4 separate regions of the Homo sapiens genome follow, and all the other regions are linked to region 2. Evidence: fine-mapped expression QTL. A gene starts in region 2. Each other region holds a variant in brackets. All regions are shown on one strand. Distances are from middle to middle.

Region 1 (8,193 bases), 90 kb after region 2:
TTCAAGCAAAAATCTAAGAAAGACCCCCTGATCTATAGACACACAAGAGCATCTTTAGAGACTTAATAGAAACAGTAAAACCCCAGCTCTCTCATCCTCCTAAAAAACAAACAAAACAGGTTAAGCAGACTGGGGATTGCAAGCAAAGGAAAGTGAATGCTTAAGGAGAACACAATGGTGAGCCAGGGTTTTAAATAAATGTGGTCAGTATTAGTGGAAAAGTAGAATAAAATAATAACTATAACTTAACTATCACTATAGAGTTTACAAAGTGCTTGTAACACTTTACAGAGTGATTCAGATGCTCTTTGACTTACAAAGGAGTTGCCCCCAGTAAATCCATCATAAGTTGGAAATATAATAGGTCAAAAATATTATACATTAAAAATGCATTTACTACACCCAACCTACTAAACATCATAGCTTAGCTTAGCCTACCTTAAGCAAGCTCAGAACCCTTACATTAGTGTACAGTTGGGCAAAATCATCTAATATAATGCCTATTTTGTAATAAGGTATTGAATATTTTGTGTAATTTAGTGAATACTGTGCTGCAAGCGAAAAACAGAATGGTTGTAGTCTACTAAATGTATATTGCTTTCACACCATTGTAAAGTAAAAAAATCATAAGTTGAACAATTGTTAAGTTGGGGTTCTCCTGTATTACCATTATCATCCCTCTTTTGAACAAGGAAATTAAGGTGCGAAGAGATTAATTTGCTCAGGGGAAGAACAGACCAGTAAGTGGTGAAATTGTGACTTACAGCCTTCTCCTTCATCCAACTCCAATTCTCCATCAGGAAGCACCAAGTGAAGAGCTTGAAAAAACAGGTAGAAGCCATGAGGTTTACTTATTGTATCTAAAGTAAGCTGTAGGCCATCCAGTAACACTTTTTGTATTGATGATGGAAATGTTCTACAGCTGTGTTCAATATGGTAGCCACTAGCTACAGATGGCTCTCAAGCACTTGAAATGTGGTGAATGGGACCGAAGAACTGAATTTTTATTTTAGCTATTTTTTATTCATTTCTATGTAAATAGTCACATGTGGCCAGGGCTGCCATTTTATTGGACAGTGCAGCTCTAAAGCAGTGGCTATAAATGTGAGACCTCCCAACAATAGATTAGCATCATCTGAAATCTGGTCAGAAATTCAAATTCTTGGGTGCAAATCAAAAACCCTTACTGAATCAAACACCCTGGGGGTGGGAGTCCAGCAATCAGCATTAGAGAAGCCCTCCAGATGATTCTGATGCTAAAGTTTGAGAGCCACTGTTTGCAGGAAAGAGTAGAGTGGCAAGCAAGGGGGAAGGGCAGAGAGACTGAATGGGGATATAGTGGAGAGGGTCAAGGTAAGGAGTAAGGAGAATCCAGTGAGAAGGCTGTAGGAGACCAATCCAATAAAAAAAAATCTCTTTTCCATCAATTCTGGGAACTGTTGCTTAGACTGGAGCCCTTCTGCAAAAGCTGATGGTCACTTTACTTGCTTGGAGATCCCTTGTGGAATTAGCCTAGTGGCATAAAAGAACTTTACAAACCTTCCAAGGAAGGCGAGAGCAAAACGGCCTCACAAGAGGGAGTGACTCAGCTTTGACTTTTGGGCTTAGCAGGTTTCTCTGACTTTTGAACATAGGCTGAGTGATGTGGCACATCACTATAACTGGGGTTTACTCCCCTTGTTCCATCCTGCAATCACCAGATCCCCTGAGCCCTGCATTCAAAGCTGGTAGTGACATTAGCTTAAAAACTGAAAACGATGTTTTAAACATCATTAAAAACATCAGTCCCGCTGCACTGGGGGTTTAATGTGAGTTGGGAGAGAAGCTGCTCATAGTTGGAGTAGACTATTTTAAGAGCCCACTTATGATACCTCCCGCTATGCCTCTCTATACTACACAAATTTCACAATTGGAGAAATAGAAGCATAGAGAATTTAAGAAGTTTGAGCCCAGCTCACAAGGTCACTCAGTAGCAGCTCTAAGGGGCGCTGTCTATTAGGCCTTCTTTAGTCTCTAATGTATTTAATCTGGCAGCTTTTTGAACTCTGAGCATCATTTTCTTTAGCTTGCCCAGCAAGCTATAAATTAAGCAACCGCACCTCCTAATGACTTTTAGGATGTTCTCCTATTGTGCCAGACCCCAAGTGCACAATTGCTAAACCACTCTGTTTTGTAAATATGGAGAACCATAGCACCCTGTAAGTCAGGCACTCCTAAAATCTATTTTTAATATCTTAGATTATTAAAAATAGTTTGAATAAATTCCATGATTTGTTTTTGTTTCATTGTATCCCAATCTGGTCGATTTCAATATTAGAGTTTGTCAGAGCTGGATGGTCATATTTTAATAACTGATTAATTGTGAAATTCCATTCTCATGTAAAAAATATTTAAAGATTACTGAGTTTGTCTTTTCATGTTTTCTCTCTTTTTATAGTTTATTCATAAATATAAACTTTCTGTGATTTTTTTACCTTGAAATGAATCCTTCCCATAAAATGTTTCCCCTCTGTTTTTCAAATAAGCATTGTACTCAGAGCATAAACACTGTGTCTTTAATTCCACAAATAACAGATCGAAGTTGAGAACAGAATGCTTAAGAAAAAGGCAAGTCACAAACAACTGTTTTCCACAGTTCATGAGTTGGTAAAATTAAGAGTCATTTATAATGTTATTCTCTTGGGCTGAACTTAACCAAGAAAAATGATACATGTTTTGTGTTTTGCTTTCTGGTCTCCACTGTGTTCCCATTTCCTCCCTCCCCACTGCTCTCCTCCCCTCCTCCCTGACTCTCCAATCCCTTTTCCTTTGGTGTGTGGCCACAGACAGAAATTTATGGCAGGGGCCAACCTCCTTTACACTCCACACAAAGCTTGCTGACTTGAGAGAGTTTGTCCGCGCTCTCCCAGAAAAAACACCTGCAGTACGCTCCCCAAGAAACCTGAAGAGATGGGAGATTAATGTGGCTGTAATAGCTGGGCAGTGTTTTTGGTATTATGCCCTCTCCCTAGGTAGATGGGTCTTTTCCGAGATGATACCAATTATTTATTGCTGAAACATCTGTTGATAACTGCAGCTGCCCTTGTAAAACAAAGCATATCACGGGGTCACAGGCTACGGCGACCTAAAATCCTACCTCATGCTAGTTTCAGTCTATTCAGCAACACCCTCAAGTCCATGGGTTACCATCATCTTTAATGTCTCATCGTGCCATAGAAAATACTTTGTAAACACCGAGCTGCCCTGCCCTATAGGCTTTGAAGTATTATTTCATCTTCATCGGTAATTTATATTCCAGCACCATTGTACTGTGGGAAAAAGAGGGGGAACCTTTTTTGTTTTCCATTTAATTGTATATCGCCTGACACTTTGACCTGTATTATTAGTATTAGTCAGAAAAAGGATTTTCTCCCTCTCTTATTTAAAAATAAAATTTCAAGGGAAAGTAAGCGCTCCTTCAGCTCTTTTCACTCAAAACAATGTTTACACTCTGAGAGGGAAAGATGAAAAGCATGAGCAACTTTTTTCAAGTGTCGGAGAAGGGCATTTCAGTCTGTGAAAGAGAACAGTAAGGCCCTTATAAATATCATTCAGCAAAACCTTTGATGGATTTTTCAAAAAGTATTGAAGGCATTTAGCGTTAGCTTCTGTTTAGCTCAGCTTTGGGCCATGGCGGTGGAGTGCTAGCTAGGAAAACCCATAGAATGCTAACTTGCTGCTGAGATGCCGGGGAAGGACTCAACGTGGATGCCACCTTGGGAATTTTTCTTTCTGTAGTTTTCACTCTTCTAAACAACAACAAAAAATGTCTAGTGAATTAAAATAAAATATGAAAGTAAAGCTTTCAAAAAGTAAAGTAAAGGGTGTGTTTGGATTTGCAAGTGGGAGCAGAT[T/C]GGGCTGCAAGGCCAAGAGCTGTGTGATAGCCCTGAGTTTGAACATTCCCTGCACAGGTTTGGGGGTCCTGATGCTGGAGGGAGACTGGCTTATTTCTGTGGAGGGAGGGGCCTGCTGTCAGTCAGCCCTGGATTTACTGTGGTGCCCACTCACGGAGATACAAGATCATTTTTATAGGTTGGCACTAAAAGCACAGTCTGAGGACATGAAGCAGGCTCAGAAGGAGGATATTCTTTTTCCCATGTCCTTTTCAACTCTACAACCATGAAAAATGGGTAATCTGATAGCCCTGATGTTGTAAATATTTTTGGAAAGTGTCTGTGGTGCCCTGGAGTGATTTGAAAAGACACCATAATAATAATAATAATAAATGTTGAGTTGTTTCTTTATGCTATTTTGTGGAAAACCCCTGTGGATGAATAAAGTTTGATCAATTTAGTCCCAATAATTTTTTTAACTTTTATTTTAAGTTCAGGGCTACACATGCAGGTTTGTTATGTAGGTAAACTTGTGTCACAGGGGTTTGTTGTACAGAGTATTTTGTCACCCAAGTACTAAGCCTAGTACCCATTAGTTATTTTTCCTGATACTCTCTCTCCTCCCATCATCCACCTTCCAATAGGCCCCAGTGTGTTGTTCCCTTCTAAGTGTCCATGAGTTCTCATCATTTAGCTCCCACTTAGAGTGAGAACATGCGGTATTTGGTTTTCTGTTCCTGTGTTACTTTGCTAGGGATAATGGCCTCCAGCTCCATCTGTGTTCCTGCAAAAGACATGCTCTCATTCTTTTTTATGGCTGCATAGTCAGAATATTTTTTCTAATATGTCTCTTTGTATTATCTTGGTGCCTTTGACTTGTTGATATTTTTGTTTTTATACTACTTAAGATGTTAGAGGGGTGAGATTTAAAACATGAATAAACATGAATAAATATAAGAGTTGGTTATTGCAAGATTGCAGAAAATGCTTTAAAAATGCCTAGTGTGACTAACTCGTGAGCTCAGGGGATGGAGGAGAGACTTTAGCAAAAGAAAGCAAAGTATGAATTTATTAGGAAATGAAATATCAAGTTAAAGAAAGTTATGGAAACAATAAAATTCCCTCCATGAATAAGCTCTTGATTAAAAGATGTCCTTAAAACTAATTTTAAAACATTTATTCCAGGTGCCGGTTTTTATATTAGTAATACAGAATTCAAAAGCAGTAACAGGTGCTGTTTAGATTATGATTCTTTCATCATTTTTCATCTTATATGCTTTGGGGCTTTCATAGCAGAAATCTTTTTCATCAAGTTGCAAAAAAAAAAAAAAACACAAAGTGTAGATAAACTCTGCATTCATTCATTCAACAAACTTTACTGGGTGTCAGCATGTGCCAGATGTTTGACAGAACACTCAAAGAAGTGCAGAAGAAAGAGAAGACCCAATTCATGTCCTGGAAAACTACAAAAATGAAGACAGAGGGCAACCCTTGTCAAAGTCCAGCTTATTGGAATGGTTCTTCCCATGTATTGACCTCCTAATATGTGGCAGTTGCTCAATCTATGTTCTTTAAGCTATGACGACAACCCTTAAAGAGAAGGGTTATAATTCCCTTTTCACAGTTAAGAAAATTAATGCTCAGAGAAGTAACTTTTCAAAGTCACAATCTGAACTCCCCATCTCTTTATGGACAGCTCTGTTCTTTCCATTCAGGGGCACACAAGGAGGGCCATGCTGGCTTTTTTTTTTTTTTTTAGACAGCATCTCGCTCTGTTGTCCAGGCTGGAGTGCAATGGCGTGATCTCGGCTCACTGCTGCCTCCACCTCCCGGATTCAAGCGATTCTCCTGCCTCAGCCTCCTGAGTAGCTGGGACTACAGGCACGCACCACCACTCCCAGCCAATTTTTGTATTTTTAGTAGAGACAGGGTTTCACCATGTTGGCCAGGATGAGCTCAATCTCCTGACCTTGTGATCCGCCTGCCTCAGCCTAACCAAAGTGCTGAGATTACAAGCGTGAGCCACCGTGCCTGGCCTGTGCTGGCTTTTAAGATGTTGAGATACCAGGGGTTGGTCACAGCCATGGCCAGGGGCCTGATTGCTCCTACTCTTGCCCTGACTAATTCAGGAACCTCTGGATCTTGTCATGATCTGAAAATGAAAGTTTGTCTCAGAAAGAACCTTGCTCCAGCCAAATGTCTGGTGTCTCTAAGGCTGCAACAATTGTATTTTGTTTAGGTCCCCTAGATAAGATAGCAAATCAGGAGAATGGAGCATGAGGAAGGGAGCTGAGCTACTTGTCAAAGGCAGAAGAGCATGTGGTGACCGGTTGGACAGACGGGGTGGGCACTAAGTATAAGATTTCAGTCTTGCAATGTGCTGGGCAGTGATGCCTTTACCTGAGACAGCACAGGAGGGGAAGCTGGCATGTGCTTCTTGGATGTCTTACAGACATCTGAAACTCATGGTCCCTCTCTTCCCTGCTCTCAAATAAGGTCCCCTTTCAGGGTCCAGTAGAATAAGCTGGGAACTTCAAGGTCATTCTTGTCACTTTCCTCTCCCTTGCCTGACATATCCATTCCATCACCAAGCTTAGTAGGTCTTATTTTCTAAATCTCTCCTCAATTCCCCTCCACCCCATCACTACTCCTGTTCCAGCTGCAGCTATATCTCACCTGGGCTCCTGCCATTGCTTCCTGAATAGCCTCACACATCTACCCCACTTCACTCCTCCACATCTCTTCTCCATGCACAGAGGTGTTTGTGCAAACTACAACTCTAGTCTGTCACCCTAGTATGCCTAGGAATGCAAAACTCTGAAATGAGGCCCATGGGCCCTGCCAGGCATAGTCCTTCCCTTGGCTGCCCCTGCTGCATCATCTCCATCTCATGGCCTCCTTTCAGTCCACACTCTTACCGGGATTATTCCATGCACATAGCTGCTCTCCATTCCCGAGACATTCTTCCCTCCCTCCTTTGCCTGATTAATTTCTGTGTATCTTTCCCTTCTCAGCTCACATCTCAGTTCTCAGGGAAGCCTGCCCTGATCTCTGGGACTAAATCAAACTTCCTCAATATAGGCTTGGCTATAAGGTATCACCTTTTCAAAGTTGCAGTTTACATTTGTTTGTGGGGTTTCTTTTACATTTGTTTACATTTGTTTGTGGGGTTTCTGTCTCTCTCTTCTGCTAGCTACAAGCTTCATGAGGTCAGGGCCTTATCTGTGTTCACCATTATATCCCTGACACTTAAAATGCATACCTTCAAAGAACACCCTTGGATGGATGGATGATGGATGGATGGGTGGATGGATGGATGAATGAAACCGTATTAATGTTATTTGAAAAACATGGTGTTTGATGTGCATGTGTGTTGAAATATATATGAGGCTGCCCCATGTGTGGCCCACAGTCAGACAATTGTCTAGGTACTGGTCAGGAGGATAATGCCCATGTATCTCTCAGGGATGGAAGGCATTTAAGTAAATGCCTTAAATGTTTCCTGATAAAGAAATGAAGTAATCACCTGAAGAAGATAATGCTATTTGTTGTGCATATTATAAATTGGAGTGGGGAGATCCTGAGTTTGGGGAGCACACTGAACTGCCAAGGAAAGAATGATTATGTGAGGTCCTGCATAAACGTTAGGCTTGAGAGAAGTGGAAAGAGGAAGCATATCTAAGAGACATTATGAAAAACAACCTAAGGTATGTCATGATTCATGGAATGAGCTAGACTGAGGTAGATTGTATTATTGTTCCCACATATTCACTTTTGCCATGTGACTTGCATGCCTCCCTCTGAAAGGAATATACCTTCCCATGGAGATATTAGGCTAGGCCCTCACAACCTGTCTTAGTCTATGAAATGTGGCTGGAAGTGACATATGCCAGTCCCTAGCAGAAGATTTATGAGCCGTTGTGTTGTTCAGCAATTGGAAGTTTTCCTTTGCCTTGTGAACAAGGTAGGGGCTACTCCCTCAACCTGAGAAGGGCAACAAATGTTGAAGAGAGTGTCAGTGTTACAGCCAAACTGCAGGCCATAAAAAGTATGGACAACAATTGCCAAAACAATTTTGTCATTAAAGGCAATTAAATTTTAGCATTATCACAGTCTTACCATGTATCATGGGTTGAATTGACCCCCCAAATGATGCATTAAAGTCTTATCCCTCGGTACCTCAGAGGACTTTATTTGAAAATAAAGTTATTGTAGATGGAATTAATTAAGTTAAAATGAGGTCATACTGGAGTAGGGTGAGCCCTTAAGCCAGTGTGACTAGTGGCCTTGTGAGAATACCTAGAGACATAGGGTAAATGCC
Region 2 (8,193 bases):
TACTTCACTTCTCTGCATCATTTGTTCTTGTTGACCAATTTCACTTCATTGACACTGTCACTTCCATCTACTTGGCTTTTAAGCAGGCTTTCCTGAGTGTGTGACCTGTGCAATCCATAGGGCCCTGCACTCAGAGTCCCATGCTTATATCGGCTATCATCAACCTGAAATGCTTAATATTTTTGAACAAGAGGCCCTGCAAAGTCTCTTGCCAGTCCTGTTTTTAGGATATACTTTGTTTTGGTTTTTTTACTACTGTTCTAAGCGTTCTTTACCCATCTCCTCTATGGATCTCTCTTTTTCTGCGTGAATGCCAGTATTACCAACTTCCACCTCTGTGGCCTTCTTTCTATCCTGTACATTCCCCTTTGGTAATATCTAACTACAATTATAGTTTTTTGACTGCCTCTAAGTCATTTACCCATATTTCTGTGTCTCTCACCCAGGCCTGTGATTCTATTTCCTAAATATTTCTTTCCCTTCCTTTTTATTCCATTGCTACTGCCATTAATTAAGGCTAGTCATCACTTCTCTCTACAATACTGCAGTACTCTTCTAACTCATTTTCCTAATTCCAGTCTTGCCTCCTAATCCACCCACCACCAGGATCCCTCCCTTGCATGAACCTTGCTCCATACTCCAACCTTCCCACAACAGTAAGTATTCTTTCTAAAACAGTTTTATGATTTTACATTCTTTGAAATTTTCTGTTTTCTGTTGTTTTTTTTTTTCTTGAGATGGAGTCTTGCTCTGTTGCCCAGGCTGGAGTGCAGTGGCGCAATCTTGCCTCACTGCAACCTCCACCTCCCGGGTTCAAGAAATTCTCTGCCTCAGCCTCCCAAGTAGCTGTGACTACAGGCATCCGCCACCACGCCCAGCTAATTTTTGTATTTTTAGTAGAGACAAGGTTTCACCATCTTGGCCAGGCTGGTCTTGAACTCCTGACCTCGTGATCCGCCCGCCTCGGCCTCTCAGAGTGCTGGGATTACAGGCGTGAGCCACCACGCCTGGCCCAAATTTTCTATGTTGTCAATATAAATATCCAAACTCCTTAAAATGAAACACAAAGACCTCCTATTATGAGCCAACTCTTGCCAATTTTTTCCAACTAATTTCTGGCCACATCACTACTAATCCATCAGTCACTGTGATTGCCTTAAGTGCATTGCTTGTGTGCACAGTCTGAATCTGTAGCACCAATGTAGCACTTGACACAAAAGATTCCCTAAACATGTTATTGAGATGAACGAATGATGTCAGCTTGTATCAGCATTTTATATTTTATATTCAAGATGATAAATCCTAGAAAATCAAAATGAGTATGATGCTGCAGCCAGTTTTCCTGCGTGTCATAATGTATTCCTTATATAGGTGTACATCTCAATCACTTAAAATAGTTGAAATTTGTGTAATGAAACTTCCATCTTTGAAATCTTACTAAAACTCACCACTGGATTATAAATGAGCCATTTTGTCTTTGTGTTTTACATGACTCTAAGGATCTTACCAGGAATCCCTGTTGAAGACAATCTGACTGTTGTCCAAACTGTAAGAAAGATAATATCTCCTATGAGATCCCTCCTCTTCTATCAGTGCCATTGCCTTTCTCTCCATACTCAGGTGTACAGTGCCCTTTTTTAGGCTCTGAAATGTACAGCCCTTCATCCTAAACACTGTATTTCCAACATTTTTGCTCCCCTACCCCCAAATAGAATTTTGCAAAGACAATAATTCCTTCACATAAAGTCGATATTCATCTTTCATTATAACTTTAGATACAAAGGGTCTAAATCTGACGTTGAATAAACATAACTCATACATTACTCTTTTAAATGTATCCAACACAAATTTTATATCCTAGTGATTTGATGTTCCCCATCATCCATTTAAAAACGCATGTACAGGCTGGGCGCAGTGGCTCACTCCCATAGTCCCAACACTTTGGGAGGCTGAGATGGGTAGATCACTTGAGCCCAGGAGTTCGAGACCAGTCTGGACAACATGGAGAAACACTGTCTTTACAAAAAACAAACAAACAAAAAAACAAAAACAAAAATTAGCCAGGTGTGATGGTGTACACCTGTGGTCCCAGCTACCTGGGAGGCTGAAGCAGGAGGATCACTTGAGACCAGGAGGTCAAGGCTGCAGTGAGCTGTGATTGTGCCACTGCATTCCAGCCCAGGTGACAGCCCTATCTCAAAAAAGTTTAAAATTTAAAAAATTTAAAAATAAAGACACATGTACAAATCTTTTTTAACAATTGGAAATTTTATATCATTCCTGTATTTCCGTAACCTTCTGTTTCATTTCACTTCATCCATAGAAGTTTATCCTAGTATAAAACAGTTTATATACTTGAAAGTTTTTGTCATATTTCTTTACAGTAAAAATATGTAGGCCGGGTGCAGTGGCTCAAGCCTGTAATCCCAGCACTTTGGGAAGCGAAGGCAGGCAGATCACCAGAGGTCAGGAGTTCGAGACCAGCCTGGCCGATATGGTGAAACCCTGTCTCTACTAAAATACAAAAATTAGCTGGGCGTGGTGGCGGGTGCCTGTAGTCCCAGTTACTTGGGAAGCTGAGGCAGGAGAATCGCTTGAACCCAGGAGGCAGAGGTTGCAGTGAACAGAGATCATGCCACTGCACTCCAGCCTGGGCAACATGTCTCTCAAAAAAAGTATATATTGAAATTAAACCTTTCTGGCTGGGTGTGGTGGCTCACACCTGTAATCCCAGTGCTTTGGGAGGCCGAGGCAGACAGACCTGAGGTCAGGAGTTCGAGACCAGCCTGGCCAACATGGTGAAGCCCCACCTCTACTAAAAATACAAAAAATTAGCTGGGCGTGCTGGCAGGCACCTGTAATCCCAGCTACTCGGAAGGCTGAGGCAGGAGAATCGTTTGAACCCAGGAGGCAGAGGCTGCAGCGAGCCGAGATTGTGCCACTGCACCCCAGCCTGGGCAACAAGAGCGAAACTCCATCTCAAAAAAAAAAAAAAAAATAGAAAAGAAAAAAGAAATTAAACATTTCTGTTTTCTGTGACCATAGACTCTAAGTATTAAACTTTCTTAAAGATTGAATTGTACAAGTATTGATTCATAATTGATGAAGAAGACAAAAATAAAATGGTACGTTTTGATGAATATTAAGTGATAAAATTTATTCAAGTGTCACTTCTCCATAAGATTTCTGGAGTTTTAAAAAATTAATTCACAGCTGAATGTTACTTATAGTTGGAATAAAACAACATTCCACAAAAATATACACATGGAAGAGGAGAGGAACTGTGTTTACATAAATAAATAGAGATAGAATTTTGTTATAGCAATGCCATTTGGTTATTTAAACTTCTAAGGTCATATATTAAACATTACATAGCGATCTATCACACAAAAAAAATGTGTTTTAAGTGATCGAGCAACTGACTATTCAACTATTTCCTCCTATTTTGTTGTAAACAATTGACTTGCCAAAGCATTTATGACCCAGCTTTTGGAGTCCTTCACTCTCTCAGTTTCTAGGAAGTATACCAAAGGCTTTACCAAAATGTATCAAATGACTATTAATAAAACCTATTATTCCTTCACTCTAGAGGAAACTTCTTTAACCCAGCAGGCTCAAAAAGGATTGAGAAAATTAAAATATTGTTTATGTCAATAACTTTTCCAATAAAATATATTTTGACATTTAGAAATCTTAGGTACTTTTGATTTTTTTGTCAAAATTTCGAGTTGCAGATTTCAGTTGTTCCATGGAAGGACAATGTCCACTGTGTAACTCAATAAGACACTTTTCACTGTCAAACTAGTCAGCCTAATCAGATATTCTATCCAAAAAGTCCTAACTTTATTTTCCAGTTCAGCAATATATGTGTCTCTGTGATAACAAGCTCACTTCTAAGACAGAGCACAGAATGAAGCCTTAATGTGCATCTGTCTTTTGCTAACAGATTTCAACAATGTCATATTCATTGTTTCTTACTGACATTCTCTCTTCTTGGCTCTAAGAGGACTCTCCATTCTTAGTCTAAATAATAAGTTTTTCTTGCACTTTCATTAGGAGAAGGAACTTTTCTGTAGTAATACAGCTCCCAGAATACCTTTCACCGAAGCAATTCCTAAAGGGGTGTGTCTTATGGTGCAAGATTGCTGAAAGTCCCGGAATTGAATTACACAACCATATTCTGAGACAGTCACAGGATTGGTTGTTTTTTTTTTTTTAATTCCTACTTCCTGAAACTGAAGCCGTTTATGAGAAACAGTGTGTTTCAGAGAGGCTGTACCAGAATTAACTCTGCTCAGAGTTAGATTTGCTGGTCTTAAAGTACTTTTCCTCTTTAAGATAAAAGTGAGTATCATCCTTTAAATGACAAAACGCAGTAGATGGCATAATATATGAGGAAGTATTTGTCTTAAGTGTTGACTCAGTTTCCATCTGCTGATCTTGTTTATATTTAAATAACTTTAGAGCTCTAAGAACCTTTGCACTTCTATAATAGAAACTTTCCAGAAAGGGGAGGATGAGTTGGTGGGGTGAAGGGGGTGGAGTGGGGAAGGGGAGGGAGAGAAGGGAAAAGTTACCTACAATGGTAAACTGTAGTCATTATGAAGGGGAGAAGGCAAACCAGTTTTTCATAAGGTTTTAATAACAAGTTTCTTAAGTCACTGAGCTTCTGGTCTTGTCACTTAACTGAGATGTTTAATTAAAGGATTGTTAGGATTATTTGTTTAAAAAAAAACTCTATGACTTTTGCCTGGAATACATAGGTAATAATAGAAACTACCACTTTTATGACAGCATCAGTAATTTTGCTAGGAAACAGGTAGATAAGGCACGAGACTTACTCGTCTCATATGGGTGAATTGACGGGAATTCTGAGTGCGTGGAAGCATTGTTTAGAGACAAAGCATCCAGAAAAATTAAATTCCTTTGCATGTCTATTTAGAAAAATCCTTTAATTAAAAAATTCTAGTGTTTGAAATTAGTACTTTAGAGTACTTTGAAAAGCCACAAATTAAAACCTTTAAGATGGTTTGGGATTTGAGGATGGGTGAGGGTACAAACAGGCAGGATCAGGAAGGAGAGGACTTTATGCCACAATATAATAGCATCTCTGCTTGCGATATATATTTCTCTCTCTCTCTGTCTCTCTCTCTCTCCCTTTTACTTTCTTTTTACTTTGTGCCACTAATTCTCTTATAAGAAACAATATCCATTTAATTTGGGGTATAATTTATGCACTTGGGATACACTCTAGTCTCTAGAACCAATGTCAAGTCCAGTCCTTGTCTGCTGACCGAAACAATTTACTTCTCTCTTCCCACCTCCTTCCCACCCCATCAACCTCAAGCCTCAAGAGAAACAAAATACTTAAACTTATTTTAGAAATAACTTATTCCCCATATCAAAGATCTTTTAAATCTGAGATGAATCTCTCAAATTTCTTCCGCCAAGAAGACACCAAAATTGTATAGCATCTCTATCTGCATGAGTAGGAAGCCAATAATTACTTTAAACTTTTCAAAATCTATTTTAAACTGTAAAGAAAAGGCATGTGTAAATTATGATGGATATTAGGCATTATCATATATAATAATACTGTGATGAGCTTTGCTGATGTGTTAAGCTGTAACAATACCTCCCAGCAAGTGCCATGTGATCTAGGTTTGGATTTAGAGCCTGAAGTTTTCCTTAAGAATAAGTTTGTGCATTTCAAGATATTTCTGAAATTCCATGGCTCCTTCTATTCCAAACAATTTTACTGATCCCTTTCCCATGAACACAAGGCATGAATTGCTTTTATTATTCTCTAATCTATTGCAGAGAATGATGGCTTTTTGGCATAAGCTGTTCATTGTAAATGATTTTCTTTCTTGAAATTTTGAATATCTATGGATTGAAGAACTCTTAAAGGAATGAGCATTTAAACTTTTGGTGAAAATATATTCCATATTTTTGTTTTTTTTGTATTTTGTATTGTATTTGTTGCCTCTCTATATGGGGGAGTCTTTGTTTCTTGTTATTGATGGTGACAACTGTTTTTGCAGAATGTTGTAATATGCTTTATTTATAGAGAACTGTGGGATAGACAAACTTAAAAGAAAGAATATTATCTGGTGCTATCATTCTTCTATGTCTGAAGAAAAGAAGAGATGATTATAACTTAAATATCAGATACATACAAATACAACTTTTCCTAAGTATGGTATACATGCTACTGATTTTAGGCAGTACATGTCTAAACTTCAAAATTTTGAGTTATTTGCTAGCTTAATATAAATTAACATAATTTGCTTATAAAACCTAGAATTTCATGAATACTGTTGTTCAGGAAAGTGTTAAGTAAGAAGTTGAGCTAATTTACTATTGATTTTAAGGAAATGATTAAATAAATAATATTACAGGTAATCTGCAGATTTGGCAAAAATTATGAAGATGGCATGCAAATGGCTAAAGTTTCAGACATGCTACACTAATGCATTTGAGAAGTGGATATTTTCTTAGCCAGTGCAGTATCTTTGAATTTTACTGGGCCTTGGTTACAGAGCTCAGTTGACAATGCAATCTGTTCAATTTCCTAAGTATAGATGTACAAAGTATTTGACAGAGAAATATTTTATCAAACGTTTATCACACCTGTAGCCTAATAAACTATTATATTTCCTCGTAAATTATCATATAATTGAAGGGATGCAGAAGATAGCCAATACTTTTTCAAATAAGAGTGATAGAAAGGGTGAAATGTCTCAGCTTGAATACTACAGGTTCATTCTGCTTGTTTCACTGAACTTCTGAACTCAGGGGCCAGGGGGGACTTTAAACATTATCTAGATCAAGGGCTACTAATGGGTCATAGTATGTGCCAATGGCTATATGCAATAATTTCATTTCTGGGAATCCATCCTAAGGGGGAAATAATTCTAGACAAGGGAAAAATTCGCAAACATGTTCATCATAAAGTCGTAATAACAAATAATTGCAAGCATTCTCATAAAAGGGGGAGGTTAAGCAAAAGATACTGTACCCATAAAACATGATAGGATAAAAAATAGTACCAGCACAGAAAATACTAAGTGAAAAACAGACTCAGGATTGAATAACTTGTATGCATGCAAGTATTTACATAAAATGGTATAGATATAAATTCAGAAATATTCTAAAAGTGATTGTTGTCTTACAGTGATAGATTCTTTCCCTTCCTTCTATTTCTTTCTACATAACATGATATTCTTACAAAAAATTTTTAAATTATTATATAATATACTTATATCTTTTTTGAGAAAACAAATATAGTTTATTAAATAGAACTATATTGCTAATAATATATAGTAAATAAAACTATGCAGCTTTGGAAGATAAAAGTTTTTCCTTCTTTTTATTTGGCATACAAATAACCAGCTATGTGAAAGAAGAGAGGACGGAGTCTCAGTGCTAGGAACAAACAGGTGCAGCGGAGTCAGTGAACAGAGAAGGAAATACCAGTTGAAACACTTACTATTGGTTCATTTTTCTTGTGTTGATTGCTTCTCTGTCAACTGTAGCTTTTACTTCAGTCTAATAATTCTTTTGGCTTAAAGATAAAAAAAAAAAAGGCAGGGAAGGGGGAATGGAAATTTGGCCTGACCTGTGTGCAAATAACCTCTTAACTCATTTCTTGTTCTTATGGATTTCCATATTTTGGATTTAGTAATTTATATCTGCACATATTGTACTTATATTCAATTTTGTCATGTCTTTGTATATACTCCTACTGCACCTCAAAATGCACTGTGTCATTGGCTCACCAGCACTGCTTTGACCTTAACCCCAGCACATCTGGTTACTGTGGTGCATTCTCCATCAGTGCATAATATGCACCCAAAATATCTGCAGAATTGCCAGCAAAAGCCTTGTCCATTCATAATTACCTTTTTTTCTACAAAAAAAAAATTTAGAACCTCATCATGTGTCCTTTTAGTTGGCATTTCTTCACAGTAACTTCAGCTCTAATTAAAGTTTGGACACTGCTGGTCAGCCCGTCATCATTTTCCAAGATAACTATATCATTACCGAGAAATTTTCTTCCCTGAGGTCATGCCCCAAATAATTATTGTGAAAGATAATAAACTGTAAGTGGTAACATCTCTTTTGATATATTAATGTATTAGGTTTGACATACACTTCTGAAGATTGCAGGTTACTCAATAAGCAACATTT
Region 3 (8,193 bases), 46 kb after region 2:
ATCAGTAGAATATAGACTTCACTAATTTTCCTTTGTTTTAACTAAAAAAATACATTTTCTGCAATGTTGTATAATTTTTAGTTTGCCATACTTTGTTGAAATTGAATCACTGCATCATCTATTGGCAGCTCAGTTGGATATAGTCAGCTGAGTTGTCTTTGTCTATGAAAAAGTGAGCTACCTAGAAATTACTGCATCTAAATGTTTAATGCTGCCCTGCAAAACTGTGACATCACTGAATCTCTTTCTCTTGATTATCCAGGATCAGATTCCCTAGACAGAAGGTGTGGTTAGCACTTGATCCTAATCAAAGGACCAAAAATACTTGGTTATAGTTCATTTTAATCTTAGTTGAAAAGATTGTGGATAGACACTTAGGAAAAAGTGAAATCAGCATAATATCGTCTCTTCAAGTGCAGTCCAGCTTTCAGAATGGTAACTTGGATTTCGGCCTCCTTGTAATTCTCCCTGATGAAAACAGAAGGATTTCACAGCACAGAAAGCAGTGGTTTATGAGTCTGGGTATGGACAGACACACAAGAGAACTCTGTTCATCGTCTTCAAAGTGATGCAGCGATGGCAAGACTGCTGCTGTGGCCACATGTAATATAGCCTGTAGCTCTTTAAAGAGGATTAGCCTTAGTGCGCTGGGAGCATTCAATGCTGGATTTCATGTAGAGCAGAATATGCTAATGAAATGTAAATGTCTACGGCAAACATTGCGTAATATAGAAAACCTTCAAAACTGAGCTTTGTCTCTTGCACGGTGGGAAACCAAACTTTATTACATCAGAAAAAAGTAAAAAAGAAATAACCTTATACTTTTCTGTCCTATGTATCTGCTTCTAAAAAAAAGTGAAGTTAAATGCATACACATACGTATTTATACTTAAATTAAATTTCAATGTTATTAGAAAAAGTAATTTCAGTCACTCAAAAATCTCTTACTAGATCTATGCCCTTGGGTGGATGTAAAATCATTTATCTCTGAAGAAAAAAATACACATAATATGGATTTTCTTAAACACTGTTATTAAGATTACAAAGGGCTTACAGAGTAGATTCCCCCCTCAACCCTTTTCACCTGAAAATTTCTTATTTGTGATTTCCACTTTGTGCGTGAGCAATGTCCTTCTACTCAATGTTGGGAAATGCTACATCTTCATAATTTTCCACATAGTGCTTTTACTACTTCATAGGAAGTCGGTATGAGATTTGATCAGTTTTTTAAAACTGCACATGCACTTAGTTAAGATATCAAAGTTATTTTCATTTTAGTATTAGAATTTCAGAACGCATTTGGTATTAGGAAAGTGAATTCACTGTAAGATGTGTGATTTGCAGTCCATGTAATGATGTGTAGCATCTTTGAATTCACGCACGTGGTTCCCAAAGATTGAAAGCCCCCTAAAGATTTTATCTCAATTGCTGGGAAATAAAGATCCCAGCAAACACATGGAACTGGGTGCTTAGTTACTAGCATTTCCCTACACTCAACCAAGTAGCTTAGGTTCTCTTGGTTTTTGTTGGTCGGTGGTGTGTGTGTCTGTGTGCGTGTGTGTTTTATATCTCAGTTTTGAAGGGTTTGTCTCTGTAGACATAGAGGGATGGTAATACATATTCATGAAAGCGTGTTCTTTCCAGTCCCTGTTAACACTGACAAAGCCTTAGCTGTTTCACACAGCAAGCTGACTGGGATTGTGTGTGGGGGCTGCATGGCCAGATTAGTGCAAACAGCAAGCCCACTCTGCTGCTCGTTAGGCCTTGCCTTCCTGACAATTTCCCCAATTGTCGCTTGTGACAAGGCTGTCATTAGGTGATGGCTTCTTTTGGCCATTTTCAGATAAAGATAATTTCCTTAACTTCCATTTTATTTGACAACAGGCAGTTTGGGAGAGAAAGGAAGTGCTTCAGTAGTATATAGATTAGGGTTTTGTCACTTCAAAGCCATCTTTGATCTAAAAATATGTGCTGTACCAAATTCATTATGTCTTTTTTTAAAGAGCTTTTAAATTTATTGATCTTCTCCTCAATTATTCTCCTTTTACGTCCAATAATGATGTGCGAGATGGTAGTGTTGGGCAAAGCCTAAGGAGGAGTGTGGGGTGAATGCAGCCAACTGGTCACTTCTGAGGTCATTACAAGAACGAAACAACAGGTGCTTTTGTTTAGTGTTGATTCTTTTCTGAATCCCTGTGTGGACAAAGGCTTCTCTTCTATTTATTGCTCAACATAATGATATCGGTGCCAAGAGAATAAGACAAAATTACGTTTGGTATTACAGCATAATAAGTCATAGCGTGTACAAAAATTGTGCCTACAGTTGCTTTCACCCTCACCTTTGAGGCCACAGGTTTCTCCAGCCAGCGCAGGAGTTCTGTGGAGAAAGAGCAAGAGACTTCTTTGTTGACCAACAATTTGACTTCCTCTAGAAGCAAGCTTACATTGTGCTGAAACTCAGCTTGCCAAAGTTCTTAGAATTGAATCATTAAAAAAATCATACAGAGAAGAAGAGAATAAGAATTCCTGTGTGAAAATGTACTTTAAAAATAGCACTATGAGCATTTATGGCTTAGACAGTAGGCCACTTGTTTAGAAGGTCCACTTGTCCTCCTTTTGTTGTTGTTGCTGTTGTACACAATGGTTGTGTGGAATTACTATGTTTTAAACAACACCTAGGACAAAGGGGTGTACAGTTTACATCCAAACTATCATGATTAGCAATTGTCTCCTAAAACTTCACATGTAATAACCAATTTAGGACAGAACAAGCTACTCATTTCCACTCCTGCAATTAGGAAAAGGAGGTGAAAATAAACACCTTAATTTCATTTTTTTGGTCTAAATGTTATGTTACTTGCCTCTTGATAGTCTACTTTATAATTTAGAATGATCTAGATGCTTTTGATATTTACTATTTTAGCAAAGAATTTCAAAATCTTATATATTAAAGAAAATATGTAATTTTAAAGCATGACCTCAGGCTCCTAAAAGCAATGACAATTGCTTCTTTTGAAAAATCACTTTTCTGAATTTTCAAAAGCTAGTATAACACAATGCCTTTCATTTTGCCTAACTAGTTTAGAGGTCTAGGACTCTATCCATGGACCTTCAATCCACAGTAAATTCTGGATAAAAACAGCCAGCATTTTCTATATGTCATGTACTTTTATCCTTACTAAGAAGTAGATACAATTGTTAGCTCAATTTTACAGATGAGAAAGTGAGACACAAAGACATTAAGCAACTTGCCCATTCTCTCATATTCCAGTAAATGTTAGAGCTAGAATTCAGACTTGGGTACTTTAGATCCAAAGCCTCTGCTCTTATTGCTGGGGCCCAGAATACATGGGACCTGGAATACCTACATACGCTTCTCCTGATTCCTCCTGGTACAGAACAAGTAAATGTTAGTTCTTCTCTCCCCTTCCATCCCTTCAGCTCCCCAGTCCTGGTCTCCTGCCCTACACAGTCCAAGCAAGTGGGCCAAGAGATTGCAGCAAAGGAGAGGGGCCAGAGAGGAATCTTATCTTCTGTCCTGGCTTCTCCAGTTTTCCTCCTGCCTGCACATTAAACACACAGGGACTGACGTGCTGAGACCTGGTAAATTCAGACAGTGGGGTTCACGGTTCATCGTATCCTTTGAAGGACTCCTCCACCACTTCATTCAAGATATCTGATGTCATTTCTCTTGACTTCGTTTTAACTAGAAAACCTTGATTTTGATTATTTTTTAATTTTTGGTGAAATCAGTAAATGCCATTTTGAAGAAAGAAAGAAGTAGACTATGAAGGAGA[G/A]TGTTTTGGGGAAAGATCTCTGTGTCGTCTTAGAGTTCACCTGCTTTGTGACTAGTGAATGCACTACAGAAACTGGCAGACAGCAACACCCTCAGCCTGCCTCGGAAGAGACAAAAGTAAATACCCGTCTCAAAGAGAATGCACTGAAATATGATATCAGCTGCAAGAGAGGGCCATCTCCTCCGGTCAAATGAGAAAAATCATATTATCCTCGCTGTGGTATACAAATAGCTTGTAAGCCACATTCTCCATTTGAATGATAACAATAAAGTGCTAACCTCGCTGCTGCAGGCCAGCCTGATCCCATCTCCAAACACAAACACTTCTGCCTGGGTTTTGGCTGGGGGTTGTGCTGTGGCCTCCCAACCCCCACCCTTTCCCCCCCTTCTCCCCCCTACCCCCGTTAATTGGCTGAGACCACCAGAATTTGGAGGACACAGATGTCACTGATAGTTTTCCTAGGGAGCACATTCATGCCCATCTGTTGCAGCCTAGAAGGCTGTTCATATATCCACAAGGCCTTCATTTAATTCTTGTCAGAAAGTAATGTAAATCCAGTTTACCTCAGAGGTCGCAGGCGAGATTTATGCCAATGAGCCCCCTGCAATTTACACACACTGTAGTTGTATAGGATGAAAAGAAAGCCTTTCATGTTGGTGCATATTAACAAGAAAGCCTGCCTTCCGAGAGAGGCTTTTTGATTGAGGTTTCTCCTGATTTTAATACAGCCGATGCCAGTTGGTATACCCAGCTTTAGAAAAGCGGGGAAAAAATCTAATCTTTAAACTGAAGTTTCTTCTTTTATAAGAAGTAAAAGAGAAAGAGTGAAATCCTAGCAAGTGGCACTGCCATGTCTTTAATTATCTCTTACTAGACAAAACTCCCTCGCACTTGGAGAAGACAGTGTGACAGGAGAGCACGTTCCAGCCTGAACTGCTGCGAGTGGAAGTCTAGGGAGAGCTCAGTTGTAAGCAATGATCTTTCCAATGTGAAAATAGTGGGACTGAACAGTTGAATTAGACTTCTGACTTTTTGTCTGTCTCTTTCTAGTATAGTTAAAGTATGGAGTTTGATAATTTGGATCAGGCTAGGTAGAAATTGATTCATCAGTAAATTGGAAGAAGACATATGTGATATATACATAGAAAATAATTCATAGAATTATCTTATTGGAAGTCTAAGAGCATTAAAAAGGACTTGGGTTACATCTTTCAATGTATTGATACATTTTGAAATATTCAGGACTGTGTAAGTAGGCTGGAAGGCAAATGGTTTTAAAAGCATTCATGGGGTCAAAGACTCCTGGAAATTCTGAATACACACCTTGTTTAGTATGTGACCTTGGGAAAGTTACTTAACCTCCATGACCCTCAACTTTCTCATCTCTAAAGTGGGGATCATAAAGCCAATATCACAAAGTTTTGTGTCTGAGGTGCACAGCATAGCACCTAAAGTACAGAAAGTATTTAACCAATAGCAATTTTCCCTCTCCACCTTGTCTTTTGGTGGTACCTGTGACAGCAAATTACAGATTTAAAATGTTAGTTAATTTGGTTCAAAACCTCTAAGCATTCAACTCACCAGACTACTTTTTCGTATTTAAAAAATGTTTAAAGATCAATGAAGTTGGAGATTTTCTTTCCCACTGTTTAGAATTTTTGTTGTCAGCTGTTTAATTTTTTAATTCTGTAGAAAGTAGAATAATAGAAGTGTGTTGGTTTCGGTAAAAGTAGGCATGGCTGCCATGCTCATTCAGAGTTGTAGCCTCTGATTTCCCAAGACAGTGTTAATAGGGGGCGTGCTTCTCGTGTTTTTATAGACAGTGCTCATTTACCCATACTAATGGCTTTGAAGTATATGGTATGATTATTTTTGCACCACATTTAACTTTTTGTTTGTATTTTGCTTAAGATAATATTAAAGTTCAGCTGTGATTTCTAAGTACATACTAACAGGACAATGAGGCACAGTAACCTAGAAGCATTACATGATGTGGATGTGGGTGGAATGGGGCCCTGATTAAAAATACAATGTGTTGTTGGCAACACAGTAAGCAGATACTCCAAATATGCATAATCTGGACTTAATTACAGAATTGGATAAAGCAGTAGCTTCATTTTGCAGAGTAGTGGTCATATTAGGGAGGCCGAAGCCCAATTTTGTTGGTTATCTAAACCAGGGAAGAGGAGATTTCAAATAATTTCAGAACGGTCTCTTGCTGCCTCTCAAAATTCATCAAGACCATTCCTTTTTGTTGGGGTCCTCAAAAGAGAATTTTTAAATTTTTTATTATTAAAAATTTCGAATATGTTGTTACAAAAGTAGAGGGAGCAATGTAAAAACTTCATGTACTCTTATGTAGCTTCAACATTTAATAGTCCATAGCCAACCTTGACTAATTTACATCTTTAATTTCTCCCCAGCTCCATGCCTCAAATTCTTTTGAAACAAATCTCAGACTCCATATAATTTCATTTCTAAGTATTTCAGAATGTATCCCTAAACGATATGAACTCTTGGAGTTTCACTCTTGTTGCCCAGGCTGGAGTGCAATGGTGCAATCTCGGCTCACTGCAACCTTTGTCTCCCGGGTTCAAGCAATTCTCCTGTCTCAGCCTCCTGAGTACCTGGGATTACAGGCGTGCGCTGCCATGCCAGGCTAATTTTGTATTTTTAGTAGAGATGGGGTTTCTCCATGTTGATCAGGCTGGTCTCGAACTCCCAACCTCAGGTGATCTGCCCACCTGGGCTTCCCAAAGTGCTGGGATTACAGGTGTGAGCCACCACGTCCAGCTGATATGAACTCTTTTTAAATATAACCACACTACTTTTATCCCACCTTAAAAATTAACACTAATTCTTTAATATCATTTATTATATCATATATTATCAGTCAGAAATCATGGGACTTTGAGTTTTAAGAAAGGAAATTCATTATTTGAGTCTCATATTACAAATTAGTTGTTTTGCTTCCATAACACAACAGTTTCATGAGGACTCTTAACGACATTCATTGTGGATTTATATGGTTGACACGTTTTGTGATATGTGGTAGTAACTTTTAGAATGAGAATGTGTCACCTTGTTGAAAAATAAAAATCACACCATCATTATGTTCCTACTCCATCTTCATTGATTCATTTGGATAAGTGTTTTCCAAACTTATTGGTGTCAATGAAATTGTATGTGGATGGCCATCATATAAAACAGATGGAAATGAAATTGCTCTGGGTCCATGATGCCAACCAGTCATTTGGCCTACTCTTTCCCCATGTGGGGCATTGCAGGTTTTGGTATGTGAAATGCTTTCTTAAGTATATACTATTTTCCCATTATGATTTCAGGGTAAGACAAATTGCTGTGTGAAACAGTTTTAAGAATAGAAGATTACACACATAGCCAACATCGAAAAACAAACAACAGTACAGTATTTACTTTTTAAGCTTCCTACCAGCAAAAATAATCTTTCACTTAAAGTAATTAAAATGTTTATTGTAATGGGAAGAGTCCACTGTGCTCATAAATAACGACCCCACTTCTCAGTTGACTACACTGGGGCCTCCTGGGAGGAGATGTATTTGCTTCCTGTCAGGATTAATCTATAAATGCAATCACCACTTAGACCTCATCAGTTCTTTTCTTCCCCTTCATTGGTCCTCTGGACTTATATTGTAGCTCGAATAAGGTCAAATTAGGATACTTTTTCCCCAGGAAAAATATAGCAGTAGCTGTTTCAGTGTTTTAAAATTTGAGAATCAAGCCTAAGAGTCGTGTCTTTAAATAAACTACATATACTTTTCTGTCATAGAATCAACATTCTGTTAAACTAATGATTTCTGCTTGTCAGTATGATGATCAGTTTCTTCCCCACAAAAAGCAGGACACAGAGTGGTCTCACATAAAACCACAGTGGCCTTAAAAGCTTATGTCTAACTTCTGGCACGTAATCTTAATGAGTTGCTATTTGAACTTTGACAAATCACTGAACTTTTGACTTAATCTTCAAATGGGAACCATATTCCTTGCTACCTTCCTCACTGTAATCTTATAAAAGTCATATCATCAACCCGATTCAATTTTCTTTGTCAAGATCTAATAATAAATACCTTTTCTTCTAAGTAGTATAATAGTAGGAAGGATGGAATGAATTCTCCAACTTTCCTAAATTTAAGTAAACTCATCCTGTGGGTCAGAATGTTGCTTTGGAATTTTTTACAAGTTGAATTATATAATTATGTTTACTTCTCGAATGAAGTTGTTTCTGTGGGTTGAAAATATCTCTTCTGTTTCTCTGGTAACCTTCCAAATACCAAATATGTATACAACAGATATTCAGTAAATGCTTAAATACCATTGAGAAGTTTACAGATACAGTGCATCTTATTTGATGCATTAA
Region 4 (8,193 bases), 130 kb after region 2:
ATAAAATGTGTTTTTTTCTAGTGAGTTTTGTTAGAGAGGTTCACGGTTGTATATTGTAATGTTAACTGTAGGGTTCCCAGTGTTATTTCTAGCATCTGACTCAGTTCAGCAGGACTCCATGTGATATGGTGACACCTTATACTATACCCACCGTGACACTGTTTTCGTTCATTCCTTAAGGTATTCATGAATTTTTCAAGTTTATAGAATGCTAATATACTTTAGAATGCAAAATAATGGTTTGAGAAATTTTAACAGGAGGTGGCAATTATTATTTTTGTAAAAAACTGAGATAACTACATATATTACACATATTATATATACAAATATATAATAATTCTGTTTCCCAGTGAAATGGAAAAATTGTCTATATTACAACTGGAAAAACATTGCTGTGTCAATCTAATCTAAGCCTAAGTTTTCCTAACAGAATCTAATGAGTCTTGGTTCTGTATTTGTTTTCAAAGGTTTTCTCTATACAAGAGCACAGATACTAGCTGTTCCTCCCCTGTCCCTCTCCCCGCCCCTCTTTTTTTTTTCAGGGATGTGGTACGAAGCAGCAGAGTTAATATGGGCCTCCATTGTAGGATATTTGGCACTTCCTCAGCCGGATAAAAAGGTGGTTTGTCTAGTGCTTCTTTTTCTCCTTTCCTGTATTTGTCTTTGGATGATTATCTCTTCATGACAGAAGTCCATTTCTCATATATCAATTTCATCTGTCCTATTTTTATTTATTTTTCACAAGCATAGGGCCAGGTACAGTTAGTAGCTTCCTTATGTGTCTTGCTTCATCCTCACTCACAGCTAGACTCTTGGTGCATAGATGGTGTTCTTATAATCATTTGTAACTGTCCATTTATATATTTATCTCTACTGGTCCATTCATTTATCTGTTTTGTTATATATTTACTCTTTACTTGATTGCATAGCAAAGTTGAGATGACCAAGTTGCTTATATGTAAAATCAGTTTTCTTGAGTTGAGTGGGCGAAGACTTCAACTGTTTATATAGCACCTTTATTCAAGAAATTGAGGAAGGTCATCTGCCTTCCTACTTGACATTTTCATTTTCTGGAATTCTGTGGGAATAGTCTCATTATCTGAAACATCTGGTTATTACATTTCCCTGAGCTGTGTAAGCAATTACTGTCTACGATTCTTTTACAATACAGACTGATATGAGCTCTTCCTTGGGCCAGTTATTCAGGCCTAGCAGTAGGGACAAGTTAGTATTGATCATCCAGTGAAACCCAACTGAGAAGTAGCTGTGTTTACATTAGGCCCATGTGCCCTAGGATGTGTTGATCCTTCAAGCTCTGTGGCAGCCAATTTAAAAATATCTCCAAGTCAGGGTATTAATTATTACACAATGTATATATATGTCAAAATGTCACATTGTATCCCATAAACATGTATAATTATTATATACATGTTTGATATAAAACATGTATTTTTAAAAATAGTATTTTTAAAAATAGTATTTTTAAAAATTGATTTTTAAAAATAGTATCTCCAATGTCATAGTAATAAAATATTAATAGGCAAATAGTTCATATGGAGGAATAATCATAGCCTTTAGGCCATGGATGAGAGCAGTAATCCACTGTGAATTCCCGATCTGTGACTTCTTTGTGTTTTTCTTACAGGGCCTCTCCACGTCGCTAGGTATACTGGCAGACATCTTTGTTTCCATGAGCAAGAACGATTATGAAAAGTTTAAAAACAATCCACAAATTAATTTGGTAATTATCATAACACTGAGTGGCATCACCTGTAAAATTGTCAATCGTGTCCTTGGTGGTTGGTTAGTGGCTGTCTTTCTCAGGAGATTGGGAGGCAGGGAGCTCAGTGCTGCGCCTCCTAGACAAATGGGAGGAATCCTGGGGAGGAGTCTTGTGGGGTCCTATTTGGCTTTATTATCCCAGCGCCTAGCACTGTAACAGACACTCAGAGAGTGCTCAGAAAGTTACTGGTGAATGAATGAATGAATATCAACAAAATGATTTTGAGCCTCACTTCTTTCCTTTCAAAGTATAACAAAATGCAGTTTCCAAACTTGGGCCATCTTGATGATAAAGGGGTAATAATTTTAAAACTTTGTAATCACCATCTGTTCAAATCAGAGCATCAGTCCCTTGTTCCAGGCTCTCGTCCTTGATAATAATGACTGCTAATTTTTATATATCACTTTACAACTCAAGAAAGTATATATATATCCAATAAAACCCTATGAGGAGGGTAGAGCAAAGTGTATCATTCCATTTTAGAGAAAAATAAAATGCAGTGCAGAGAAACTAACTAACCTCTGCAGTTTACACAACCAGTAAGAGAGAGAACTGGGAGCTGAGCCCAGATCTCTGACCAGCCCAGAGAAGTGACAAGGATGTTCTGCTGCTCTTCACACTGTGCTTAAATGGAGTTTTTATTATCGTCTATATTGCCATTTTTATTCAAGACCCCATTATTAAAGATACCATTAAATCACAACAGTAACCATGCTCAATACTAATTAGTGTAGCAAAAGAACACATACAGCTTGCTGATGGTAATCTGAATCTAAGATGTTGCTTTTTCTGTTTGACCAAAACAGGAGGATCATGTCCCTTGTTCACTGAAGTTATCCCTGATGACCGTTTAAAATTGCAAACTTCCTTCCCATCCTGGGCCTCCCTAACCCCTTCTCCATTTATTGTCTCTCCAGAACACTTGTCATAATCTCAAATACTATGCACTTTACTTGTTTTGTATATTGACTGGTCCCTCCCCCACAACAGAAAGTAAGCTCCTTGAGGGCTCACTGTCTGCTGTTTCCCCTGTGTCTAGAACAGGCCCTGGAATGTGGTGGTACTCTATACGTATTTACAGAATTAATAAATGAATTCTAATTGCTGTGAAATCATCAATTAAAGGGCTCTTTGCCAAGAGCGTGCAGAAATCAATTAATCTGGCTTCAAAATGTGCAGTTCCTTTGAACAAAGAACTGCCACCGTCCTCCAAAGAAGCTCACCCAAATTATTTTGCACAGGTGTGTGTCTGCTGGGAAAAAGGAAAGTCAACACCTTGTGGTCTTTAGACCCACTTACTCTTTCTTTACACTGTTCTGAACGGGTTGCGGTGAGGAGTCCCTTGAAATCATGAAAGAAAAGCAAAACCATTTCATAGCCTGTTTTTTGCTCATCGATAATTAATTATCACCATTCCACTTAGCCTCCTGTTTTCTCACAGAGCCTGCTGAAGGAGTTTGACCACCATTTGCTGTCCGCTGCAGAAGCCTGCAAGCTGGCAGCTGCCTTCAGTGCCTATACGCCGCTCTTCGTGCTCACAGCTGTGGTAAA[C/T]GAATGCAGCCGCTCCTCAAACCCCCACAGGACCTCTCCCAGGGTGCTTTCTGATGTAACCAGTGAGAAGGGAAAGGTTTAACCTTCAAACAGGCTTTGTGTCTCATCAGTGGCAATTGTGATAAGACTCCACACCACATATGGAAAAATTTTATTGGTCGGAGTTTTGACAGCCTACTAGGAGCTAAATTAATTCAGCCCAAGGGTAGATTGTTGTCTGTTGTGAAGCAATGGTTCCCAAGCCTGAGTGCACATCAAAATCACCCAAGGAACCTTCTCAAAATACATATTCCTGCCAGGCATGGTGGCTCACGCCTGTAATCCCATCACTTTGGGAGGCCAAGGTAGGAGGATGGCTTGAGCCCAAAATTTCAAGACTAGCCTGAGCAACATGGTGAGACTTTGTCTCTACAAAAAATTAAAAAATAAAAATTGGCCAGGTGTGGTGGTACGTGCCTATAGTCCCAGGTACTGGGGAGGCTGAGGTGGGAGGATCACCTGAGCCTGGAAGGTTGAGTTTGCAGTGAGCTGAGATTGCACCACTGCACTCCACCCTGGGTAACAGAGCAAGACCCTACCTCAAAAAAAAAAAAAAAGAAAAGAAAAGAGAAAAAGAAAAAGAAAAAAAAAAGAAAGAAAAAAATACTACACATTTCTGAGCTCCACCCTAGATCCACTAAATGCAAATCTCTGAGGTTGGTATCCAAAAATCTTTAATTTTGGAATATTGTCCAGGTGATTCAAATGCACAGATGCATTCGGAAACCAATGCCCTATTGTTTCGACATTAAATGAATGATGTATTCATATATGGCATCCTTATTTGCATAGAGAAACTTATATCCATTTCCATGGATAGACTCTGTTAAAACTAACAACAGCAACAAACACAAGCCTATCGTCTTTAATCAAAATGTATCAAAGATACAATAGGATGGTAATTGAAGCTGATTTCTTACCCCTTCATGCCAGCCAGTCACTTATATCCCCATCCCTTCTTCTGATTCACCAAAAAGGCCTCGGGTCCTTAACTCAATGTTTGCCTGTATATTTTCCTTAGAATGTATGTGGCATGTGTTCATTTTTCTATAATATTTCAAATGACTGTCCTCCAGAAATGAAAAGTTTGTCCTGATTCACTTGCAGTTTTCAATTCAATATCTGATTTGGTATTTGGTATTTTTCCCAGAATATCCGTGGCACGTGTTTATTGTCCTACAGTAGTTCAAATGACTGTCCTCCAGAATTGAAAAACTTACATCTGTGTGAAGCCAAAGAGGCCTTTGAGATTGGCCTCCTCACCAAGAGAGATGATGAGCCTGTTACTGGAAAACAGGAGCTTCACAGCTTTGTCAAAGCTGCTTTCGGTCTCACCACAGTGCACAGAAGGCTCCATGGGGAGACAGGGACGGTCCATGCAGCAAGTCAGCTCTGTAAGGAAGCAATGGGGAAGCTGTACAATTTCAGCACTTCCTCCAGAAGTCAGGACAGAGAAGCTCTGTCTCAAGAAGTTATGTCTGTGATTGCCCAGGTGAAGGAACATTTACAAGTTCAAAGCTTCTCAAATGTAGATGACAGATCTTATGTTCCCGAGAGTTTCGAGTGCAGGTTGGATAAACTTATCTTGCATGGGCAAGGGGATTTCCAAAAAATCCTTGACACCTATTCACAGCACCATACTTCGGTGTGTGAAGTATTTGAAAGTGATTGTGGAAACAACAAAAATGAACAGAAAGATGCAAAAACAGGAGTCTGCATCACTGCTCTAAAAACAGAAATAAAAAACATAGATACTGTGAGTACTACTCAAGAAAAGCCACATTGTCAAAGAGACACAGGAATATCTTCCTCCCTAATGGGTAAGAATGTTCAGAGGGAACTCAGAAGGGGAGGAAGGAGAAACTGGACCCATTCTGATGCATTTCGAGTCTCCTTGGATCAAGATGTGGAGACTGAGACTGAGCCATCGGACTACAGCAATGGTGAGGGAGCTGTTTTCAACAAGTCTCTGAGTGGCAGCCAGACTTCCAGTGCTTGGAGCAACTTATCAGGGTTTAGTTCCTCTGCAAGCTGGGAGGAAGTGAATTATCACGTTGACGACAGGTCAGCCAGAAAAGAGCCTGGCAAAGAACATCTGGTGGACACTCAGTGTTCCACTGCCTTGTCTGAGGAGCTAGAGAATGACAGGGAAGGCAGAGCTATGCATTCATTGCATTCACAGCTTCATGATCTCTCTCTTCAGGAACCCAACAATGACAATTTGGAGCCTTCTCAAAATCAGCCACAGCAACAGATGCCCTTGACACCCTTCTCGCCTCATAATACCCCAGGCATTTTCTTGGCCCCTGGTGCAGGGCTTCTAGAAGGAGCTCCAGAAGGTATCCAGGAAGTCAGAAATATGGGACCCAGAAATACTTCTGCTCACTCCAGACCCTCATATCGTTCTGCTTCTTGGTCTTCTGATTCTGGTAGGCCCAAGAATATGGGCACACATCCTTCAGTCCAAAAAGAAGAAGCCTTTGAAATAATTGTTGAGTTTCCAGAAACCAACTGCGATGTCAAAGACAGGCAGGGGAAAGAGCAGGGAGAAGAAATTAGTGAAAGAGGCGCAGGCCCTACATTTAAAGCTAGTCCCTCCTGGGTTGACCCAGAAGGAGAAACAGCAGAAAGCACTGAAGATGCACCCTTAGACTTTCACAGGGTCCTGCACAATTCTCTGGGAAACATTTCCATGCTGCCATGTAGCTCCTTCACCCCTAATTGGCCTGTTCAAAATCCTGACTCCAGAAAAAGTGGTGGCCCAGTCGCAGAGCAGGGCATCGACCCTGATGCCTCCACAGTGGATGAGGAGGGGCAACTGCTCGACAGCATGGATGTTCCCTGCACAAATGGGCACGGCTCTCATAGACTGTGCATTCTGAGACAGCCGCCTGGTCAGAGGGCGGAGACCCCCAATTCCTCTGTAAGCGGTAACATCCTCTTCCCTGTCCTCAGCGAGGACTGCACTACCACAGAGGAAGGAAATCAGCCTGGAAACATGCTAAACTGCAGCCAGAACTCCAGCTCATCCTCAGTGTGGTGGCTGAAATCACCTGCATTTTCCAGTGGTTCTTCTGAGGGGGACAGCCCTTGGTCCTATCTGAATTCCAGTGGGAGTTCTTGGGTTTCATTGCCGGGAAAGATGAGGAAAGAGATCCTTGAGGCTCGCACCTTGCAACCTGATGACTTTGAAAAGCTGTTGGCAGGAGTGAGGCATGATTGGCTGTTTCAGAGACTAGAGAATACGGGGGTTTTTAAGCCCAGTCAACTCCACCGAGCACATAGTAAGTACAATCTTTTCAATAGTTCCCCCCTCAGGAAGCAGCTGTGTTGGGGCACTCTGAAGAGCTTGGTATGTAGATCACTTAAAGCTCATGAAAGGTATAGAACCCTGGTATGCTTTGTGAGTTCACAGAGAAATGTATACTTCAGGGGTCTCCCTCACTCTGTGCGATGGACCTTAATGGTTGTAAAGAAGCTTGCTCAGGCTACCTTGCATGCTGGAGGTTTGCTCTAAGGACACACGAGGTAGTGAGGGAGACAGGAAACTTAGAGGACTCTGGCACAGCCATCACTAAGGGTTGAAAACAGCTCTGGAGGCCGTCTCATCCACTCAGCATCTATCTTCTTCATTGATTCTCATTACCAATCAGGTGATTTTAACAGGCTGGATACCATATTATCTGCTCAGCATCTATCTTCTCCTTCGAGTCTTTTTACCAACCAACTGATTTTTCTCTATCTTTCCCCATTAGAATTCTATGGGGACATGGTTTGACCTAGTTAAATATCATCTTTCTATTGGGCAGAGACTTTTTACACCTGTCTACCTAAGCGGTTTCTTGCCAGCCAATTGGTTGGTCAAGTGCATCCTCATCTTGTATTCATGATTCTGTAACAAAATGCCATCAACTGGGTAGCATATGAACAACAGAAATTTATTCCTCATAATTCTGGAGCCTGGAAGTCCAGGATGAAGGTACTGCTTTCTGGTTCATTGACAGCGCCTTTTCTCTGTGTCCTCACATAGTGGAAGGGGGAAGGGTTTCTCTGGGATCTCTTTTATGAGGGCACTCATCCCATCTATGAGGAATCTACCCCTCAGGACCTAATCACCTCCCAAAGTCTCCAGCTCCCAACACCATCACCTTGTGGGTTAGAACTTCAACATGTGAATTTAGGGGGGATAAAAACTTCCAGACTACAGTACCCCTACTGTTGCAATCAGCAGCTACTTCTTGCTTAAGGAACAGCCCAATGTCACTGCCCAAAGCGGGAAGCCTGGGCTGGAGCCACCTAGTAGTCAATGTCTAACACAGCTTAAAAGTGGTAGAGAAGCTGGGAGGAAGACAGAAGGAGATTCTTCTCTTAGCCCAGGAATCACATCAAAATGCCCTCCTACTATACAGAAAAATGATTTGAATGATTAAAAAAACAAAAAGATTGTGAAGCACTTCCCAGAAGAGATAAACTACATGGATCACTAAGCACTGGCTATTAAATAGTAGTTCTCAACCCTGGCGCCACATGAGACTCTTCTGGGGAGCTTTTAAAAACTTCCAATGCCTCACCCCAGAGATTTCCATCTAATGGGTCTGGAGTGCGGACCCAGGGATCATTATTTCTTATCACCTCTCTGGTGATTCTGCTTAAAGCCACTGTTAAGAGCTTCTGCTTCAAAGTATTCCAATGTTTTGCCTGCCACCTTGAAGTCCGACTAAAATACAAATCACATTGTTACCAAAAAAAAGCAAAAATTTCCAGCAATAGGGTTTTCTTACTAACTGTGAGATTCTGCAATTTTGGAATCACATTTATTA

The links.
Region 1: its variant is fine-mapped to the expression of ALPK1 in whole blood (TOPMed, PIP 0.96).
Region 3: its variant is fine-mapped to the expression of ALPK1 in whole blood (INTERVAL, PIP 0.94).
Region 4: its variant is fine-mapped to the expression of ALPK1 in whole blood (TOPMed, PIP above 0.99).

Annotation. Positions count from the first base shown.
Region 1 is chr4:112,383,435-112,391,627 of GRCh38, forward strand. The region is part of intron 4 of ALPK1 (alpha kinase 1); the gene reads left to right. Among named protein-coding and RNA genes, the nearest start is that of ALPK1, 90 kb to the left of the region's middle. The variant T/C (reference allele first, on the strand shown) is at 3,894.
Region 2 is chr4:112,293,126-112,301,318 of GRCh38, forward strand. ALPK1 (alpha kinase 1) reads left to right here and starts at 4,244. Exons shown (of 16, transcript NM_025144.4): 1 at 4,244-4,344. RefSeq lists an enhancer at 4,008-4,302.
Region 3 is chr4:112,339,571-112,347,763 of GRCh38, forward strand. The region is part of intron 2 of ALPK1 (alpha kinase 1); the gene reads left to right. Among named protein-coding and RNA genes, the nearest start is that of ALPK1, 46 kb to the left of the region's middle. The variant G/A (reference allele first, on the strand shown) is at 3,798.
Region 4 is chr4:112,425,925-112,434,117 of GRCh38, forward strand. It overlaps ALPK1 (alpha kinase 1), which reads left to right. Exons shown (of 16, transcript NM_025144.4): 8 at 543-619; 9 at 1,646-1,741; 10 at 3,225-3,329; 11 at 4,524-6,657. Among named protein-coding and RNA genes, the nearest start is that of NEUROG2-AS1, 85 kb to the right of the region's middle. The variant C/T (reference allele first, on the strand shown) is at 3,335.